3 linked regions of the Homo sapiens genome follow. The protein of the gene in region 3 purifies or fractionates together with the protein of the main gene of each other region. This does not show direct contact. Each region holds a gene or a part of one and is shown on either strand. Other genes may lie near its edges.

Region 1 (7,306 bases), on a different chromosome or scaffold from region 3:
CACTCTCTGGGTCCATCACTGGTCACAGATAAATTGTATAGTTATCTTAATATCATGATTTTGATAAAAACAGAAGACTGATTATTTCTTTTGGTTTGAAGTGAACTGTGACTTGCTTGTATATTACAGCATTCAGTCTAGATTGTCATTAAATTGAAGACTCTACATTCAGAACATAAAAGCACTAGGTATGTAAGTTTGAAATATGATTTAAGGACAGTATGGTGGTTTAACTAGTTCTCTAATTTTTGAAAAATCTTGCCAAACAATAAGATTTATGTATATTTGTTTAATAATAACCTGTTTCAAATCTGAGTTTTGAAAATTTACATTTCCCCAGTATTGCATTATTGGGGTACTTAAGATTATTTTAGAGAAAAATATTTCTCATTTGATATAATTTTTCTCAGTTTCATGTGTGTGAAAAAAGGAAAGTATTTCCCATAAATGGGAACTTTGCCCACTGTCTCAAGAAATATATATTTCAGTGACAATTCCGTGGTTTTAGAGATATATTCCAAAATTTCCTCATATTTTTAAGTTATGCAACTAATAAAAACTACCTTACATTAATTAGTTGCAGTTTTCTACACATGGTAATATAGGATAAGCTACTGATTTAGGAAGTTTTAAAGTCCATGGTATTCTCTCGATTCCAATAAAGGTTGATTTTCTCTTGTATTTTTCTTATTTATTACGGGTTACATTTTTTATTTTTCAAATTGGATAATATCCTGGAATTATCTTTTATGATTTAGTAAACAGCATTTTTTGTTGTTGTTTCAAACTGAAGTTTACTGAGAGATCCATCAAATTGAACTGTCTGTTGATAATTTAAAATTTTGGCCATTCATTTCAGATTTTAAATCATTCTTGCTGAACTACTTGAAATTGTCTTTTAAAATTTTTCTTTTTGGATGTGAAGGTGAACATTCCTGATTTTTGTCTGATGTGGAAAAGTCCTGGTATTTTACATTTTGAAAATTCACAGAAGGTTAATATAAAACAAAGTTTGCATTCTACTCAGGAAAAAGCATCTTCTTGTATATGTTTTAAATGTATCTTTGGCATCATATACAGAAAGTTCTTAATTAATTTTACAGTCTGTAATGCTTGATGTTTCAAAATCATTAACTATATATATATATATTTATTATTATCATTATTTTTTGAGATGGAGTCGCGCTCTGTCACCCAGGCTGGAGTGCAGTGGCATGACCTCAGCTCACTGCAACCTCTGCCTCCCGGATTCAAGTGATTCTTCTGCCTCAGCCTCCCAAGTAGCTGGGACTATAGGTGCACGCCACTATACCCGGCTAATTTTTGTATTTTTAGTAGAGATGGGGTTTCGCCACACATTTTTATATTTTAAGATACAAACTTCATATTTTCCTGTTCTTTCCTAACTGCTAATATTGTGTGGTATCTTACAGGTAGAAATCAACAGGATGGTACACTTAGTGTATTTTTACTCCTTAAAGAGCATACTCCTTAAAGGGCATACATAGTTTTCACCTTACAAGAAGGGGGAAAACCATAAATACAATGAATCAACTGACCATTATGTAGTAGACAATTTCTGTAATGTCCCCTTCTTTCTAGGCTCTGCGGATAGGAGAATCCACTAGACTTATAGTAGCATAATGTACAAGTTTTCTTTAAAGGTCTCTCCTTTAGAATATAAAATATTATACCATTGAAGAGTTTGGATGTGTAACCTGTGATGCCTTAGAAAAATATCCTAAGCACAAAATAAACTTTTCTAATCACTTCAAAAGATTAAAAAAACCAAAAAACAAAAAACAAAACCCAGCATTAGCAATGTCTTCACAAAAAGGATATATGGAAAATTACACATCTGGGCTCTTGCCAACTGATTGGAATGGTGTGGGTGGGTGAGGAGACAGGGCAAAGCAGAGAGAGGAAATTGTTTAAAAAAAAAAGGATGATGAGAAGTCTGGTTTCAGAAATTTTGCATAATACCTAAATTCAACTAACCTGCAAAAGCTCTGTGGGTAGTGATTTCGTTCTGCATCTCTCACGGTGCCACAGCATTTAAAAGATGCTCAATACTTATTAGTGTGGCCCCAGTCTCACATAAAGCATTTTTGTAATTGACAACATGGTTTTTGGGCTAAGCAAATACCACTCTACTGAAATATTAAACAGGGCAGATTCCCAACTGCAGCTTTAGCGGCAATTTAATGGTTGGCAAATATATTAAGTGGATGTGGACCTCACTATTTGGTCCTCACCCAGAAATACTGTAGGCTGCACACAGAAATTAAGCTTAGTTTCAATGAATAGTGAGACAAATTAGAGATGAAAAAGTTACATCTAACAAATAAAAAAGAAACCAACTTTAATATTCCCTTACCTAGACACCAGTATTCCACATTAGCTTTCCCTTATTGTCCTCTGACAGCATGCTTTAGTTCATCTTTTCAATATGTCTTGATTAACACTACTCCTTAACTTTAGGCTCCCTACCCATTCAAGCCACCCATATAAACTGCGTACACGTCCTTTGACAGCCATAATAAGTATAGTGTATGTTTCTCTCCAGCTCCTTTCCCTGTGATCCTCAACAAACTGCAAACTGTTCAAAGTCTACACATAGTTAATTTTGGTCGGTCCTCAGTTTCTAACGCATCCCGTAGGCGCTCAAAGAATGCGTCTTGTTGTTTTACACGCTTTCAAGTAACCATCGAGAAATCCTAGCAAGACGCGGGTCGGACCGGGTCCCTAGGGATAAAGAGAGCAGCGCCGGGCCAGGCTGGGGCCACTCTGGACCCAGCTTCTTCACAACTCCGCGCCTCTTCCCACAACCCAGCACCCCGCGCCGTCCACACCACGTTTACTTTGACTCGTCTTTGCATGTTACTCTGCCATTCCCGCTGCGCCAGGAGCGACTCGTCTGCTTCTTCGTCAAACACGTCCCCTTTGTCTCCAGGGCCCTGGATCAAGGAGGCTGCTTGAACCCACGACATCACCGAGGCAATTACGGGGTCGCAGGCCACCGGAAGCGCCAACAACTCCTTCCGGTCCGAAGGCGGGGCGAAGACGGCGAGTGGAGGCTCGGGAGGGGCTGCGTGTGCGCGGAGGCGGGCTGTGGCCCGTGGCCGCCGCCGGAGCCTTTCGCTTGCGGTGATTTTGGGCTCCCTCGGTTGGCAGTGTTGATGTGTGCCTGTGAGTTGTGAGCGAGGCAGATTTCCTCGCGTGGCCGGCACGACCTTCACCTTTGCAGAAGGCAACCGGGACCCTCAGTGAGACACCTTCCATTTCCACCGTAGTCTTACCATGGTCTGGGTTTTACATTCGCGCGCTTTGGTAAACTATTAAAGGTAGTAAAGTCGATGGGCGATTACCACCCAAATACTTTGTCTCTTTTGGAATCTCCTCTGCATTTAAAGGATTTGACAAGCCGACATTTTAAACTGTTAGGATTGTGGAGTAAAGGAAAATAGGATCGAAAAGCGAGGTACTGTAGCCAATTTGAGATTAGTAAGAAATATAGAGTACATTTGTAAAGCCAATATATTTTTTCATTGATTCACGATATCCTTCTGCCTCCCATTCCTGTTCATATGCCCTAAAGTAAACAGTTGGTTTGGTAAGGGTGGGGACTTGTGTCAACACCAGGACAGTTCTGACACATAGTAAATGCTGAACTCTATTTTGGTGAATGAATGAATACCTGTAGTATTCCTGTTTTGCCCTTTGCCTGGGTAAAATGAGTCATGTGATTATGATTTATTTATCTAACAATTTATTGAACACCTACCTTGTGTCAGGTACCATTCCAGGCTTTGGGATACATCAATGAACAGACGGAAGTTCCCAACCCTTGTCGACTTTATAGTCATGTAAAATTGACAGGATAAACAATAAGCAATATATAAGTAGCATAAGGTTTGTTAGAAGATCATAAATAAATGCTATGAAAAAAATTTTTAAATAAGCACAGTAAGAACCATAAGTGTGTGGGAGTGGGTGGTTGGTTCATGTTACAATTTTAAATCTCCAGAGAGAATTTGGCATCCCACAAATAAAAAATATATAAACTACAAATATGTATATTTTATTAATGTAAATATATTAAGATATATGTATATATCTTTATTAGGAACAAAATGGTAGTAAGCAATAAAGATAACAATAAAATAGAAAACCTCAAAACTTGAATAAGTAAGTCCAATTCTTTTTTGTATTATTTGAAAACACCAATAAGATAGATAATCCTGTCATGACCCAGATTTTTAAAGAGAACAAAATTATACAAGAATGAGAAATGAGATAACCACTGATGCAGAAGGAGATTAAAATATTAATTACCAACTAAAACTCAAAAGCAACACATTCGAAAACCTGAGAGATATGAATGACTTTCTAAGAAAATTGACCCAAGAAGTAGGGTCATGAAGAGACTAATTACCATAGAAAAATTGGACATTAAATATCTACTATTAAAAATGTCATGGAGACTTGGGAGTTTCACATTAAGTCCTTTGCAATCTTTAAGGAATGATGGAGTCTTAAACTATTTTTACCATTTTAGGGGAGAGAAAAAGAAGAAACTCCTTAAATCATTTCATGAAGCCAGCCTTACTGTAACTTCATAAAGATAGTACCAGAAAAACCCCAAAGTTCAAGTTAGCTTGTGAATATATATCCAAAAGAGAATCTAGTAGGTTGGTGCAAAATTAATTGGGGTTTACTTTTGCACCAACCTGGTAGTACTTTATCAAAAGAATAATTTAAGAGGTTTTGTACCAGGAAAGCAAACTTTTGCAATATTAGGACATCAATAATATTTCATTGCATTGACTATTTTTTTTTTTTTTAAAACAGCGTCTTGCTCTGTCACCCAGGCTGGAGTGCAGTGGTGAGATCACAACTCACTGCATCCTTGATCTCCTGGGCTTGAGCTATCCTCCTGCCTCAACCTCTTGAGTAGCTAGGACTACAGGCATGTACCACTGCACCTGGCTAATTTTTTGATTTTTTTGTAGAGACAGGAGTCTCACTATGTTGCCTAGGCTGGTCTCCAACTTCTGAGCTCAAGCTATCCTCCTGTGTCAGCCTCCCAAAGTGCTGGGATTACAGGCATGAGCCACTGTGCCTAGCCTGCATCAACAATATAAAAGGGAAAAAACATGTTATATTAATAAATGCTAAAAAGTTATTTGAAAAAATTTAAAAATCATTTCTAACAAAATAAAGTAGAAATAGAAACTACAAATTGGTAAAGACTTTACAAAAATTCCAACGAGTAGTATTTTAAACACTTAGATGTTCAGATATTTCCTTTAACATATAGAAAGGAGAGGGCATCTGGTAGTCACTATTATTACTTAATATTCTTTTAGAGACTAGCACACTAGCACTTGCAATAAGAGAAGTAAACAAAATAACATGTATAAATGTTGGATAATAAAAGATGAAGATATTCCTTTTTAAAAAATGAGACGGGATCTTGTTCTGCCACCAAAGCTGGAATGCAGTGGTGCAATCATAGCTCACTGCAACCTCAAACACCTGGGTTCAAGCAATCCTCCTGCCTCAGTTTCCCAGGTAGTTGGGACTACAGGCACGCACCACAATGCCCAGCTAATTTTTAAATTATTTTTAGTAGAGACGGGGGTCTCGCTTTGTTGCCCAGGCTGGTTTTGAACTCCTGGCCTTAAGTGATCCTTCTGCCTCAGCCTTTCAAAGTGCTGTGATTATAGGCATGAACCACCATGCCCAGCCTAAGATATTCCTTTTGGTCATTATATGATTATATACCTAGAAAACCCAAAAGACTTTGCTTAAAAAATAACAGAATAAAGAAATTTGATAAAGTCTGTGAATATAAGAAAAATAAACACACCAATAGCCTCTTCTAGTAATAATCATCTAGAAATGTAAATGAGATAAATATTCCACTTGAAATACCAACAAATATTATTAAATATAGTAATGACATGTTTGTTTAGTATTTAGTGTTTATTTAGTACTATATTTGTAAATGTCAGGAACACATTTTTAAAATCATGCAGTAACATGCATACATTTTGAGTGTAAACACCACCTATGAAGATATAGAAAATTTCCATCACCCCAGAGAATTTCCTCGTGCTCCTTTGTGGTCAGTCTCTCATCCCTGGCAACCCTTGATCCAATTTTTATCACTAGATTAGTTTTGCCAGTTTAGAATTTCATAGAAATGGAATTGTATATGTCCTTTAATATATTTGGCTTCTTTGACTCAACATGTTTTTGAGATTCATTTATTTGGTTGCATGTACCAGTAGATTGATCTATTTTATTGCTAAGTACTATTTTCATTATAGGGCTATACCATGATTTGTTCATGTAGTCATTTTTGGACATTTGGATTGTTTCCAGTTTTTGGCTATTATGAATAAAGCTGCTGTGGACATTTTTGTACATGCCATTTTGTGTACACGTTTTCATTTCTCTTGGGTAAATATCTAGAAGTGGAATTGCTGGTCATATAGTAAGTATACATTTAACATTATAAGTGGTATGGGCCGGGCACGGTGGCTCACACCTGTAATCCCAGCACTTTGGGAGGCCGAGGCGGGCAGATCATGAGATCAGGAGTTTGAGACCAGCCTGACCAACATGGTGAAACCCCATCTCTACTAAAAATACAAAAATTAGCTGAGCGTGGTGGCACACGCCTGTAATCCCAGCTACTCAGGAGGCTGAGTCAGGAGAATCGCTTGAACCTGGGAGGTGGAGGTTGCAGTGAGCTGAGATCGCACCAGTGCACTCTAGCCTGGGCGACAGAGCGAGACTCTGTCTCAAAAGAAAAAAAAACAAAAAAACAAGTGGTATGGTTTGGCTGTGTCCCCGCCGAAATCTCATCTCATCTTGAATTGTAGTTCACAATCCCCACGTGTCATGAGAGGGACCTGGTGGGAGTTAATTGGATCATAGGGGCAGTTACCCTCATGCTGCTGTTCTTGTCATGGTGAGTGAGTTCTCATGAGATCTGATGGTTTTATAAGGGCCTTTTCCCCCTCTTGCTTGGCACTTCTCCTTCCTGACGTCATGTGAAGAGGGATGTGTTTGCTTCCCCTTCCACCATGATTTTAAGTTTCCTGAGGCCTCCCCAGCCCTGCGGAACTGTGAGTCAATTAAACTTTTTTTCCTTTATAAATTAGCCAGTCTGGAGCGGTCCTCTGTGGCAGCATGAGAATGGACTAATACAATAAGAAACTGTAAGCTGTGTTTCCAAAGAGATAGTACCACTTTACACTTCCACCATCAATGTTTGAGTGTCAGTTGATCCACA
Region 2 (7,034 bases), on a different chromosome or scaffold from region 3:
TGCATGCCGGGAAAGCTGTTGAAGGAGCCTGGAGAGTCAGACCTTGGGATTCAGTATTGACCTTGGATCTCTTTGAAAACTAAAGAATATAGGTTCCTTAAGAAATAATTAAGTGGAACCCATTTAAGTGTAATTAAGTGTAATTCATTTAAGCACAGTTCTCTAGAGCCAAGTAAATTGGCCAAGAGATTCTCCTTAAAAAGTGAGGTCCCCAAGTGAATAAAAATATAGAAGACAAGGCTTAATGTATATTAGAACAAGCATTTTATCTGATAGGATGTATTTAAGTTGCAATTTGCACCTAGTTTTTTTTATTGTTAGATAAGAAACTGGTTTAGTAATTTTAGGGTTACTTGAACTTTTTAGAACAGCCAGAGCTTCTAAAGTAATGATGTGGTGTTCTTTGCATCATCCCACCTTTAATGCTTCTCAGAACTCACTGCCATTAAGAAACAAGCATGGAATAAAACCAGCAGCCCTCAGTACTTACTTGGAGGAGGCACTGTCTCCAAAACTTAGCAGATTGTATTGTGGAACTTGAATTTTAAAGAGAAACATTCTGTTTTGTAGTGTTCCGTATTTGCTGAATGCCTTATTTATTGGAAGAGGAGGTTTTTTTTTTGTTTTTTTTTTTTTTTGAGACGGAGTCTTGCTCTGTTGCCCAGGCTGGAGTGCAATGGCACGATCTCGGCTGACTACAACCTCCTCCTCCCAGGTTCAAGCAATTCTCCTGCCTCAGCCTCCCGAGTAGCTGGGATTACAGGCACCTGCCATCATGCCCAGCTATTTTGTGTGTGTGTGTTTTTGCAGGGATGGGGTTTCACCATGTTGGCTAGGCTGGTCTTGAACTCTTGACCTCAGGTGATCTGCCCGCCTTGGCCTCCCAAAGTGCCGGGATTACAGGTGTGACCGCGCCTGGCCTTTTTTTTTTTTTTTTTTAAATGATTGACATTTAACTTACACACTGTAAAATTCACCCTTTTCAACTGTACAAGCTGGGCGCATTGGCTCACACTTATAAACCCAACACTCTGGGAGGCTGAGGTGAGAGGATTGCCTGAGGCCTCCATAAAACATAGTGAGACTGAGACCCTGTCTCCACAAAAAAAAAAAAAAAAAAAAAAAAAAAAATACAGCTGGGTGCAGTGGCTCATGCCTGTAATCCCAGCACTTTGGGAGGCCGAGGTGGACGGATCACCTGAGGTCAGGAGTTCGAGACCAGCCTGGCCAACGTGGCGAAACCTGTCTCTATTAAAAATATAAAAATTAGCCAGGCATGGTGGTGCGCGCCCGTAGTCCCAGCTACTGGGGAGGCTGAGGCAGGAGAATCACTTGAATCTGGGAGGCGGAGGTTGCAGTGAGCCGAGATCACACCACTGCACTCTAGCCTGGGCGACATTGACACTCTGTCTCAAAAAAAAAAAAAAAAAAAAATAGCTGGGTGTGGTGGCACAAACCTGTAGTCCCAGCTACTTGGGAGGTTGAGGTGGGAGGATCTCTTGAGCCCAGGAGCTGGAGGCTGCAGTGAGCTATGATGGCACCATTGCACTCAGCCTGGGTGACCAAATGAGACACTGTCCAAAAAGAAAAGTAAAGTGTACATACAGTTCAGTGGCTTTTAATATATTTGTAAGGTTATGCAACCATCACCACTTGGCAGATGCTTTTTAGAATATTCTCAGTTTTAAGCTGGAACATCTCAGAAGTGACCTCTTCAGGGCCACCAGAGTAGAGAGGATTCCAAATCAAAGTAATGGTTGTTTAATCCAGAAAGGCCCTTACACTTTATTAATATGTTAAATTCTATCTGTTGAGGTAGATAATAGGTAAGATTCTGTATTTGAGAATGTGTTTTTGAGACTGAAGTGCCTGCAAGAACAGTGCTCATATAAAGGTGTTTTTAGGCTTCAGTGGGACAGCAGATGGGGTAGAGGAGAGGCCCCACAGTATCCCTGGAGTATCACAGTAGTAAACACTGCCTTTCGTTACTTCTCCTGCCATGGCTGACCTTTTTGTCTCTTGTTTCATGGTTTTACACGTATGAATGGCTTGAGACTGAGGATTTAGGGAAGAAGCGAAGGCATCATCTAGGGCTGTGCTGTGCCAAGTTGAGCAGTTGTTTAAACTGTTAGAATTTTTGACTGGTGTAAAAACCCTCTTTGGAGCAGGTATTACGTAGTGCTGTCAGTACATATCTTATTGCATTCTTCTGTTCTTTATTTTTTACCTTTTCTGAAGTTGCACAGCGTGAAAAGACAGCAATTTCAGTTTGAACAAGTTAAGGAAGTAATGTAGACGACAAAGTTTAAGCCTTGATTTGCTTGCTTTGGTTTGCTGGGGAAGAAATGTCTGAAAGTGTTCAGATAGTATTTTCTTTCTGGTTGAAGAGAAAGGAATGAAAAAGAGATTTGATAACCTTCTGGGTTGAGTTAGCAGTATTGGAATGGAATTTTTTTCCAGAAATGCGAATTTCTGGTTTTGCTCAGATATATGTACTAGCGACTCATTAACAAACATTTACCAGTCCACTGAATGAAAGATGCTATGCTAGGCACTTGAAATAACACCAAGATGAATAAATTGTGGTCCTGAAGGAATCTAGAAAGGGATCAGATGCCCAGTGTACTCTAGTGGAAGTCACAGTGTGGTAAGTGAGCCCTGCAGAGAGTGTAGAGAAGGCTTTCAAAGCCGAGAACAGCAATCCCTTACGTAAAACCTCTCAGTCTTGTCACTCTCATAAAACTAAAGATTTATCTATTATCTGCTCACTGTTCTTTGCGAATGCCTTGTGTGTATTTTTTTTTCTGGCCTCCTGGGCCAGAGTTGCAGCCAAAGCCTGATCACCAAGGTTGTGTGTATTTTAAAAAACTTTTTACTTATTATTTTTTAGAGACGGGATCTTACTTTGTCACCCAAGCTGGAGTATAATTGTGTGATTATAGCTCATCGTAACTTCAAATCCCTGGGCTCAAGTGATCTTTCACCTCAGCTTCCTGAGTAGCTAGGACTATAGGCACCCACCATGACGCCTGGCTAAGTTTTTTTGTTTGTTTTTGTTTTTTGAGATGGAGTTTCGCTCTGTCACAGGCTGGAGTGCAGTGGCCCTAACTCGGCTCACCGTAACCTCTGCCTCCCCAGGTTCAAGCGATTGTTCTGCCTCAGCTTCCCAAGTAGCTGAGATTACAGGTGCCCGCCACCACGCCCAGCTAATTTTTGTATTTTTAGTAGAGATGAGGTTTCACCATGTTGCCCAGGCTGGTCTCGAACTCTTGACCTCAAGTGATCCACCCGTCTCGGCCTCCCAAAATGCTGGGATTACAGGCGAGAGCCACTGTGCCTGGCCAAGTTTTGTATTTTTAAGTTTGTCGAGAGTGCTGAAGGTAGAGCACTGGTTATCTTTTTACAGTACTTGTCTATTTCGTATTAAACAGCAGTGAGTTCAGTTACTATGAGTCTGGCTAGTGTGTCTATTGGGGCATGTTTAGAATTTCATCATTCTACCCTTGGTTTTAAAATATCTTCGGGAGACAAGAATTTGGCTACTAGTTGAAGGATCTGAGGTCCTCAGAACAATCAAGAAAACTGACAGTTTTTAGCTGTTGATTGTTGATTCATTTCAAGGCTTAGAAGTTTCTGCCTTGTTTTCAGTAGAGTTTAACAAAGTGAGCCGAGACTGTAGATTTATATGGCTCCTTCGTAAATGGCTTTGTTCTAAGGAAACCTAGTTGTTACAGTACTCTAAGTTGAACCAGTTTCCCATCATAATTCTACTTTCAAAGAGAGAAGAACACTTAATAAGGCTTTCCCGAGCACCTGACCTAACAGTGGTGACACTCACTTCCAAACCACATTCCCACTAGGTAATTGTATGTCGCTTCACTTGAAAAAAAAAAAGCGCATTCTGCAGAATGTCACTGGGTAATTTCCTGGTTGAATATTTCTGTAGAACTCCAGTATGTTACCATACTACTTGTCCATTGCCTTTAGGTGGTTAATTTTGGTAGCAGAAAAATGTTTCGGTTATTTTTTTATTTTTGACATGGAGTCTCCCTTTGTTGCCCCGGCTGCAGTGCAATGGCGTGATCTCGGCTCACTGCAACCTCCACCTCCCGGGTTCAAGCGATTCTCCTGCCTCAGTCTCCTGAGTAGCTGGGATGACAGGTGCGCACCGCCATGCCTGGCTAATTTTTGTATTTTTTTTTTTTTTTTTTTTTTTTTTTTTTTTTGAGACGGAGTCTCGCTCTGTCGCCCAGGCTGGAGTGCAGTGGCGGGATCTCGGCTCACTGCAAGCTCCGCCTCCCGGGTTCACGCCATTCTCCCGCCTCAGTCTCCCAAGTAGCTGGGACTACAGGCGCCCGCCACTACGCCCGGCTAATTTTTTGTATTTTTAGTAGAGACGGGGTTTCACCGTTTTAGCCGGGATGGTCTCGATCTCCTGACCTCGTGATCCGCCCGCCTCGGCCTCCCAAAGTGCTGGGATTACAGGCGTGAGCCACCGCGCCCGGCCTAATTTTTGTATTTTTAGTAGAGACAGGGTTTCACCATGTTGGCCAGGATGGTCTTGGTGGCTACTGACCTCAAGTGAGCCACCCACCTCGGCCTCCCAAAGTGCTGGGATTACAGGTGTGAGCCACCGCACCCGGCTGTTTCTGTTATTTTTGTACTTTTTTGAGGGTATCTGAAATGGTTTTGGTTTGTGTATTTTAAATGTTATTTAAATGGTTTTTTGTTTCTTTTTTGTTTTTGAGATGAATCTCTCTATGTCGCCCAGGCTGGAGTGCACTGGCACGATCTTGGCTCACTGCAACCTCTGCCTTCCTGGTTCAAGCGATTCTCCTGCCTCAGCCTCCCAGGTAGCTGGGATTACACGTGTGCACCACCATCCCCAGCTAATTTTTGTATTTTTAGTAGAGACGGGGCTTTGCCATGCTGGCCAGGCTGGTCTCGCACTCCTGACCTCAAGTGATCTGCCCACTTCAGCCTCCCAAAGTGCTGGGATTACATGTGTGAGCCACCGCGCCTGGCCTCAAATTGTTTTTGAAGTAGTTAGGTTGTAGCTCATAAGACTGTCTTTCAGGGTTGTTTGAAAAACATAATGGAATTTTAGTTACTCTATGCAAAGTCTGATCAGGTTGATAATGTGGCATTGCTTTTGTGTCCGAATAAAGAGGTTCTTAGAATGTTAGCGCTGGATACGACCCTAGCAGTTGTACAGCCTCTTCATTTTCAGATAAAGGAACTGGAGCCTTAGAAATGCTAAGTAAATGCCTAAGGTCACTCACAGAGTTAATGACACCATTGAGTCTAGAATGCAGATTTGCTACCTGCTAGTTTAGTGCTTGATCTGCCACATCATGCTGTTTAATAACAGGGGGCGGGAAGGGCATGCCTGGAGCTAATTACTACAACTAGCGTGTAGTTTTCTGAGAGTGGCCCTGGCATTTGCCTAATGTTTCATTCTTAAAGGTTTTTGAAATTATTTTGGGGCTTTGAAGTGCTTGCTGTAATAAATTTATTGAGCATTTACCACCCCTTATCAGTTATTTAGTCTTCACAACATTCTCTTGAGGTTAGGTACTGTTGACCCATTTTACAGATGAGAAAATAAAGGCTCAGTAAAGCTAAATAACTTAGGTCAGTCATATCCATGAGAGGAGTGAGGCTTGGAATCGAGGTCATTTCAAAGTTTATTCTAGTAGTGACTGCTAGTGCTTTCCTTGTGATTTTGTATTAAAGTAGACTGAGACTCTCCAGAAACTGGACCTGTGAGCTTGGACCATGGCATTTCTCTGTGTTCTGTCTCAGTAGTAGCAGAATGACATTTGTCATAAGTAGGCAGTGCTCTGATTTAAAGCAATATTTTGAAATTACTTCTTTTTACATTTTAGCAAGTGTTGATGTAAAATACTTTAAAACAGCTCTGTTCACCACTGTCTGTACCGAGCCTTTTTATTTTTAGAGTGTTAGGTAATTAAGGCAAAACCATCCACATTGTTTTATGTGTTCTGTAGACTTCTTTCTGGTGTTTGCTTTTACTGTTTTTCAGTATTGTCTACAGGAGAAAAAAAGAAAAACCTCAGCTTGCAAATTTTTGTTCAGAGATGGGATCGTTCTTTGTTGTTGGAGGGATTTACATTAAAAAAATTCAAGAAATATTGTCTCATGTGATCTTACCAGATAAGTGCCTATTATTAAGACTTGTTGGCTGCTGGATTTATTATCTTAGCCTAATTTTCTTTCTGAGTTAAATGAATCTTGCTTTTTTATCGTTACCACCCTGGCATAATCCAATGGGAATATAGTATGAACCACATAGTTAATTTAAAATTTTCTTTCTTTAATTTTGTTTTTTGAGACAGGGTCTCACATTGTTGCCCAGGCTGGAGTTCATTGGCACAATCATAGCTCACTGTGGCCTCAACCTCCTGGGCTTAAGTGATTCTTCTGCCTCAGCCTCCTAAATAGCTGGGACTACAGTTGTATGCCTCCACGCCTGGCTCATTTTTACATTTTTTTTTGTAGAGACAGAGCATCACTGTGTTGCCCTGGCTGGTCTTGAACTCTTGGCCTCAAGCAACCCTCTTAGCTTGGCCTCCCAAAGTGCTGGGTTTATAGGCGGGAACCACCACAGCTGGCCCAACATCTCCTGAGTGTAGTGTTTCCCTAACCCCTTCTTAGAAAGTTGGCACATTTAAAATTGTTTTCACTCTCTTGAGCCCTAATGGAAATGCAATGAATGTACAGATGGAGGCTAGGGGTCCTGGTCAGAAAAGGGAAGTGAGGCCAGTTGTGGTGGCTCATGCCTGAACCCAGGAGGTGGAGGTTGCAGTGAGCCCAGATTGTGCCACTGCACTCCAGCCTGGGCGACAGAGTGAGACTCCATTTCAAAAAGAAAAAAGAAAAGTGAAAAAATGAAGTGATGTGACTGGAAGGAACCAGTGTGAAAATCAAAGGAAAACACAGTAATTCAGTAAAAATTGATTGTGTATTTATTCTATACAATACATCATGCCAACTTGTTGAGACTACTGAAG
Region 3 (7,118 bases):
AAAGACACTAGACCCAATAAGCTACATACAGTATTTATATCGGCATTCTGGGAAAGGCGAAACCAAAGGGACCCAAAACTGAGCTGTCAGGGGCTTGGAAAGGCCCAGAAGACTGACCATAAAGAGACATGAGGGAACTTTGTGGGATGATGGCAATGTTATATATTCGATTATAATGCTGCTTATATGACTGTACATGTCTGTAAAATTCACAGAACTGTACACCTAAAAAGGGTAAGTTTTATAGTATGTAAATTATACCTCAAGAAAGTGCTCATAGAAAGACAGAGAAGGGAATCTTGAGGGGAAACAGAAGAGGCTTGGTTGAGAGGATGGATACAGGAGTCATAATGTGCAAATAATAAAAGTTTCTGAAAGAAAGATGACTACTAAACTAATAACATTATAAAGTCCCTCAAGCTAAAGAAATTTCTCCAAGCTTGAGTCTGCAGGTGAAAACTGCCTATAAAATTATGGGTTACAAGGGTGAGAAAAGATATCTGGCAAATGCCATGAACTCAAGAATAAAGAGAAAAACCTTAGATGCTTCCAGAAAAAAACAAGTTACTTAGGAAAAAAAAAAAAGAGAGGTAGGCATAGGCCTTTATATCCACAACATGGCAAAAGAAGATAGTGAAAGAGCATTCATAAATTTTTGAGAGAAAAGGACTGCCACCCAAGAATTCTATCCCAACAAAGAGTAAAAGGAAAGTATTTTGGCGTATGTTATCACTCATTTATCCAATTGAGAGAAACGGCCAAAAAAAATAAATGAATAACAACTGAATCATAGTAGAGATAGAGGAGGAAAAGAGAAGACCTTATGACATATGTAATTAAATCTAACTAGGGAATAGTAAAGAAATTGGACAGAGATATATGATAAAAAAAAATTCAGTGCATTAGAATTAAAATAAAGCATCTAAACAAAAGGAATATTAAAATCAGACCAGTGTACAGTAGTATCTTTATCTGCAGTTTCATCTCCGCAGTTTCAGTTACCCTTGGTCAATCATGGTTCAAAATATTAAAAGGGAAATTCCAGAAACAAACAATTGGTAAGTTTTAAACTGTGTACTGTCTGAGTAGTGTGAAGAAATTTCTCACCATCCTGCTCCATCCCACCCAAGACATAAATCATCACTTTGTCCAGCACATCCACCACTTTGTCCAGCACATCCACCACTTTGTCCAGCATATCCACACTGTGTATACTACCTGACCGTTAGCCATCAACATCATCTGCTCCTGATATCCAATCATCAACATCATCGTGGCTTGATGATCCAGAATCACCAGAAGCAGATGCTCCTCCTTCTGAAGTATTGTCAGAAGGTTAATAGTAGCCTAACACTACATCACAACACCTACATTCTTCACCTCACTCGCTCTCATCACATAGACATTTTATCTCTCACATCATCGCAGGAGGAAGGGTACAATATAATATTTTGAGAGCGAGAGAGACCACTTTCACAAAACTTTTATTACTTTATTACTTCTATTGTTATAATTGTTCTATTTTATTATTAATTATTGTTAATCTCTTACTGTGCCTAATTTATAAATTACACTTTATCACAGGTATTTATGTATAGGAAAAAACATAGTATTAATATAGAAAGGGTTCAGTACTATCCATGGTTTTAGGCATCCACTGGGAGTCCTGGAATGTATCCCCTGGGATAAGGGGAGATGCCTGTACAAGGAAACTGCAAGTGACTATTTCCAACAGCTTTTTTGTTTGTTAGTTTTTACCTGGTTTGCAAGATGAGAGTGACCAAACAGCTTGTGACCCAATTTCCCGTACTGTTCCAGTCCTTTCCAACTGCTTGGGGTCAGCACCAGGAGGTGTCTTGTTTGGTGTAGTCATTTTTAAAATATTCTATGTAGAAAACAAGAATGCACACATTGTATCAGGAACTGGGCATCTTTCTACAAAAGTTTTTTACCAAGAAAAATTTAATGGAACTCATATACCCTGACATTAATCATTTATTCTGAAGAATGCAGTTAATATAATTAAATCACTGTAATTTAAATCTTAGGGGCTGGGCATGGTGGCTCACACCTGTAATCCCAACACTTTGGGAGGCTGAGACAGGAGGATCATGTGAGCCCAGGAGTTCAAGACCAGCCTGGACAACATGGCAAGACCCCATCTCTATTTTTAAATAAATAAAAATCTTAGGAATTCAGGTTTTGTTTCATATGACCAGATATGCAAAGCAGTGAGCTATAGTAGTCAAAAGAGCACAGAATCAAAGTTTTGGCTTCAGTATCTCCTTTAATCAGCCTAGACTTTGAGTAGGTCTGGGCTTTATTTCCTCTCCTGTTAAAGAGGTTCACTTGATGATTTTTACTTCTACAATGCTATGCAGTTCTATAATTCTGTGCCTGAAAATTCAAATGACTTTTAGCCCTAGAAAAGTCAGACTGAAATACTTTTATTCTAGGAATATATAAATATTGATCCTCATTTTATTTACTTAATTCCTTTTTTTTTAGAGACAGGATCTAGCTATGTTACCCAGGCTGGTCTTGAACACCTTGCTTCAAGCGATCCTCCCACCTCAGCCTCCCAAGTAGCTGGGATTACAGGTGTGATCCCATCACCCCACTAAGATCCTCATTTTAAATATTCATTGAGTGATGCAGAGAACAGTCATACCTGCCCTCTAGCTGTCAAAAGTTTTATTTAAGACCCAGCCCGGTGGCTCACACCTGTAATCCCAGCAGTTTGGGAGGCCAAGGCAGGTGGATTGCTTGAGCCCAGGAGTTCGAGACCAGCCTGGAATATGGTGAAACCCTGTCTCTAAAAAAATTCCAAAAAATCAGCCTGGTGTGGCGGCACACACCTGTAGTCCCAGGGGGGCTGAGACAGGAGGATCACCTGAACTGGGAGGCGGAGGTTGCAGTGAGCCGAGATCGTGCTACTGCACTCCAGCCTGCGTAACAGAGCAAGACACTGTCCCAAAAAGCACAAAAATAAGAAAAAAATGTTAAAAGTTCACTTACATATGCTCTTACCATAGAAGATAAGGTCAGGAAAATGGCTTCAAGATTTTGAAGTGAATAACTGGCCCATTCTAAAAAGGTTGACCTCATCTTTCACATCTTTTGTTAATTTTACTAAGTCTATTCATATGTGAAAAAACACTTCAATACTGGATCGTGAACAATATGTAAAACTGCTTTGGTAGCGCAGTTACTGCTACTGAACATTGTTATATATGCTATTCAAAATAGGTGCAATAGTTCTGCATACCGTTTCCTTGACACCTCCCATTGTATCCGAAGTTGTTCTTTAATCGGCACACAAGCACTTGATACTTACTAAATAACGGCAGACACAACGGACTGTAAACTTTGGCAAGGCCTGAGGCTTAAACGCTCAATAAGTAATTTACTGAATGAATAAACAGATGAATAGGTTCAGTTATGAACTAGTTGTCACTTGCCTGCAAGTTAGGTGAGATCTAGGGCGAGACTATTCAACCTGCAACCATCATTACTAACTGAATGTCCTGTTACCTAAAAAAAGATAGAAATAAAGCCCATCTTTAGGGCAGAATTCAACTGCCGGACTTGGGACTGGACGCCACCAAGTGGATAAAATATGGAGCTCGGAAAAGATTGGATTCCCGGCCCTGAACTGACCACACAGTTGAGAGGAAGTTGAGGCCTAGAAGAGCGCGCAACAGTAAGCCGTGTCGGCACCAGACTCTGTTGGTCCTACTGACACCTCCAGCGTTAGAATGACTAAGGCTCCACTCCTGACCCACCGGCCTTGAGGAAAGCGCAAACGTAAAAAAAGATTGAAACCGGAGAGGCGAATGCATCTGTTTACGCTAGGACCACGCTCGACGTCGGAGAAAAGCCCACACACTCACAGTTTCCAGACCTGGCTGCTTGCCGAAACTCAGATTCTCGGCACCTCCAGCAGCTGGCTTCGCCAACGGCGTTGAACAAGGGTCGCAGCTCAATGACGTCATATCTCCCTACCTACCTCCAGGGTTCCGCCTCACGCTCTATGTCGCGCGCGCGCACTACGTCCTATGGCTTGCGCGTGCGGCGGCTGGGCACCGCCATTTTGGCCGGTGGCCGTGAGAACACGCTGTGTGGCTGAAAAGTGAAGGCAAGAGCTGATTTGGCCTCTGTGCTCCCCTCCGCAAGGGGATCGTTTTCTCCAGGTACGTGAATAGCCCGGAGAGGTTTGGCCGTTAGCTGCCATCTGCCAGGTTGGAAAGAATGTAGGGACGTTCTCCGAGAGCCTTTGGTTAGGCCTTAGGTGGCGGAGACAGCAGCAGCGCGTGGCAGCGGTTCCTGCGGGACAGCTGGAACTGATGGAGCGCGGGCGACGCCGAGAGCTTGGGGGCGCCTCGGTCTTCCCCTCCAGCCGACCCGGCTGTCGCCGCTGTTGCCTGCCACACCCGCGAGGGACTTCGAGAATGGACCTAGATGCCGTAGTCTCCACTCCCCCTTTACCCCACTCCCGCCCTGAAGCTAAACCTGCTGGAGAGGAAGGCACCTTTAGAACTTACAGCACTCTCTAGTACCCCCACACTCCTCCAGCACCCAAAATGGATATATTGTCACATGTGCATATTTGGTTGTGGGAAGTCGTGGCTTCCACGTTTTGTTGAGTGGAATGAGTCATGGCATCTTGCCGCCATGAAGTCGAATACTCGCTGTCCACTCCCAGGCTTTATAGAAATGATGCCCACATGTCACTCTGCTTTTCTCAGAACAGCGTGTACGCAGCTATGACTGGGGTTGTCCCAAGTAGTTTCCCAGTAGAAATCCTATAGTTTTTTTGGTACGCTTTTGTAGCACTAGGCACTTTCTCCCCTTACCCGTTTTTCCTTTTATTGTATCTAATACTCATTGAGATCAAGGTTGATGTCTTTACTCAGAATACCTTTATTATCTCTTCAGGGCTTCGTACATTGTAGGCATTTAATACGTATTGTGAATGAATGACAGCCAAAGCCGAATTCCCACCTCCCATTAACTACATAAGCTTATTTTCTCTTTTTTGATGGTAAAAATCTATAAGAGGAAGAACTGTCCAAATAACATGTTTTATTTTTTTACTCTTTCCCAACAGGACTGCTAACTAGTCATTTATGATAGTGGCATTTATGTTGCAGTAGTTTGTCCCATATTCTGAGAATATTCATTGTATACCAGCCACCTGACACTAATACTTTGTTAGTGTAACCAAAGGCTCAGAACCTGTATTTGAACCAAAAGCTGTTTGGGGTTTGTGAGCTTTTTGAGAACTTAGTTCTCCCCTATTTTAAAAAAGGGAGTTTTTTTGTTTGTTTGTTTGTTGGAAGAGCATCTAACAATTGGGAGAGAGGGGGAGAAAACAATATTAAGTTAGAGTTCTTCTAAATGTCTTAAACTTAAAACTCTTTGAAATCAGAGCCGTGTACCACTCCTAACTTCTACGTGTTTTGTAAGACTAATAAACTACAATAAGCATGGGTTAGACTATTTCATGTGATACTAAACATCATTAGTTAACAGCAGTCTTTGAAATGCTTTTACACAGCGTTACAATTATTTTGGCTTTAGACTGTAAATGCTTCTAAGTATTCCTCACTTCCTTTTTTCCTCTCAGCTGTAAGAATGACACTGAGGGTCATTGTTCTAGTGTCAATTTTGAACACTTTTGTCTTCGAATCTGAAATATCCGCAAATCCTTCTTTGTTTGCAGGAGCCTGTTAACTATAATCTTCCTCTCCAAGCTTTACTGTGCCTAGGTTTTCTATTGAAAAACAAGTAGGGAATCCCCTTGCCCCAATTATTGAAACTGATACAGAAATTGAATTAAAAGTGTTCACACAGTTAATTAACAGTTCTACAAAGAATCCATGTTCATTTTTCTTAAATGCATTACAATTTATCACTATTTTTATATAAATCAGTTTATTAACCACTTCTGGTATGTTTTTATTCTACTGTAAAAATCAAGCCAGGGTAGTGACATGCACCTATAGTCCCAGCTATTCGGGAGGCTAAAGCAAGAGGATCCCTTGAGCCCAGGAGTCCCAGTCTGTAGTGTCCTGTGATCACTGCCCTCAGCCAGGACACCATAGCAAGATCCCTGTGTCTTTTTAAAAAATTGTCTTTTACAGTCTTTTGGTTTTTAAAATAGTTTGAAAAATTAAATATTTTAGTAGTTTAACAGAAATAAAGTTTAAGCAATTTCGTGGTGATTTATCCCCTGGAGGGGAATTCATTATGCTCTTTCACTGAGTAATTGTAGAAAGGCATTCAGTATTTAAATTAGAATGCATGGTGTCCAGTTTTAATAGCTTGCTGAAGAATCTTCATTTCCTAGGAAGTTGTCATTTCCCGAATAATAGCTTTTTTGTGACAATTCAAGCCATCTAATTTCTTCCTCTTCTAATCTTTACAAGACCTGGACCAGTTTTTAGAGGAATAGAGTCAACCTGTTTATTGGAATAACCCTGTACTTATTACATGAACATTTAGTCTCCTTTTGAATGATTTTTTTTTTCAGTATGTAGTTTAGTGGACAACTGTCACTATAAAATATTGGTAACTTGCAAGATTTCTAAAGTTGTTATAACCTACAGGAAAATTATTTACTATATTTAAATTCATATTCTCATTCATTTAGCAGAAATGCTTGATCTCCTGTGTGCTAGGCACAGGTTCAGCCACTGGAATGAACAAAAATTCCTACCCTCATGATGGATGGAGTACATTCTACTTGGGGAGGGGAAAAATGTGTATGTGTTTGTAGAGAGACAATATACATACACACACCCACGATAGATGTGTGCATATACACCAGATATATATAAAAAAAATATATATATGGAATATATAGTATGTCATATAGTTGAGCTAGGGAGAAAAATAAAGCAAGAAAGAAGGATGAAGAGGCAGTTGGGTGTATTTTTCGGTAGTGTATATTGTGGTAGTGTAGTTACAAAAGGCTCACTGAGAAATAGTAAAGATTGAAAGGAGTAAGCCATGTAACTCTCTAGGGGGAATAGCATTACAGGCAGAAAGTGCCAAGATCTTGAAGCAAGAACATGCCTGGCATGTGCTAGGAACAACAAAGAGCCAATGTAGCT

What was found. Proteins that work in one complex are often made in the same cells at the same time.
Region 1: the proteins of ABCE1 (region 3) and YAE1 purify together in Homo sapiens (affinity purification with mass spectrometry; 2 studies listed by BioGRID and IntAct, with this or other methods). This does not show direct contact.
Region 2: the proteins of ABCE1 (region 3) and GSPT1 purify together in Homo sapiens (affinity purification with mass spectrometry; 2 studies listed by BioGRID and IntAct, with this or other methods). This does not show direct contact.

What each region holds. Positions count from the first base shown.
Region 1 is NC_000007.14:39,562,103-39,569,408, reverse strand, and holds the start of YAE1 (protein YAE1 homolog), read right to left. Parts: upstream 3,006-7,306; 5' UTR 2,991-3,005; coding exon 2,862-2,990; intron 1-2,861. UniProt on the Homo sapiens protein: The complex LTO1:YAE1 functions as a target specific adapter that probably recruits apo-ABCE1 to the cytosolic iron-sulfur protein assembly (CIA) complex machinery. May be required for biogenesis of the large ribosomal subunit and initiation of translation.
Region 2 is NC_000016.10:11,905,952-11,912,985, reverse strand, and holds part of GSPT1 (eukaryotic peptide chain release factor GTP-binding subunit ERF3A), read left to right. Parts: intron 1-7,034. UniProt on the Homo sapiens protein: GTPase component of the eRF1-eRF3-GTP ternary complex, a ternary complex that mediates translation termination in response to the termination codons UAA, UAG and UGA.
Region 3 is NC_000004.12:145,094,227-145,101,344, forward strand, and holds the start of ABCE1 (ATP-binding cassette sub-family E member 1), read left to right. Parts: upstream 1-4,084; 5' UTR 4,085-4,193; exon of another isoform or gene 4,194-4,345; intron 4,346-7,118. Other genes in the region: ANAPC10 (anaphase-promoting complex subunit 10), read right to left, coding at 1,759-1,885, 3,019-3,108. UniProt on the Homo sapiens protein: Nucleoside-triphosphatase (NTPase) involved in ribosome recycling by mediating ribosome disassembly. Able to hydrolyze ATP, GTP, UTP and CTP. Splits ribosomes into free 60S subunits and tRNA- and mRNA-bound 40S subunits.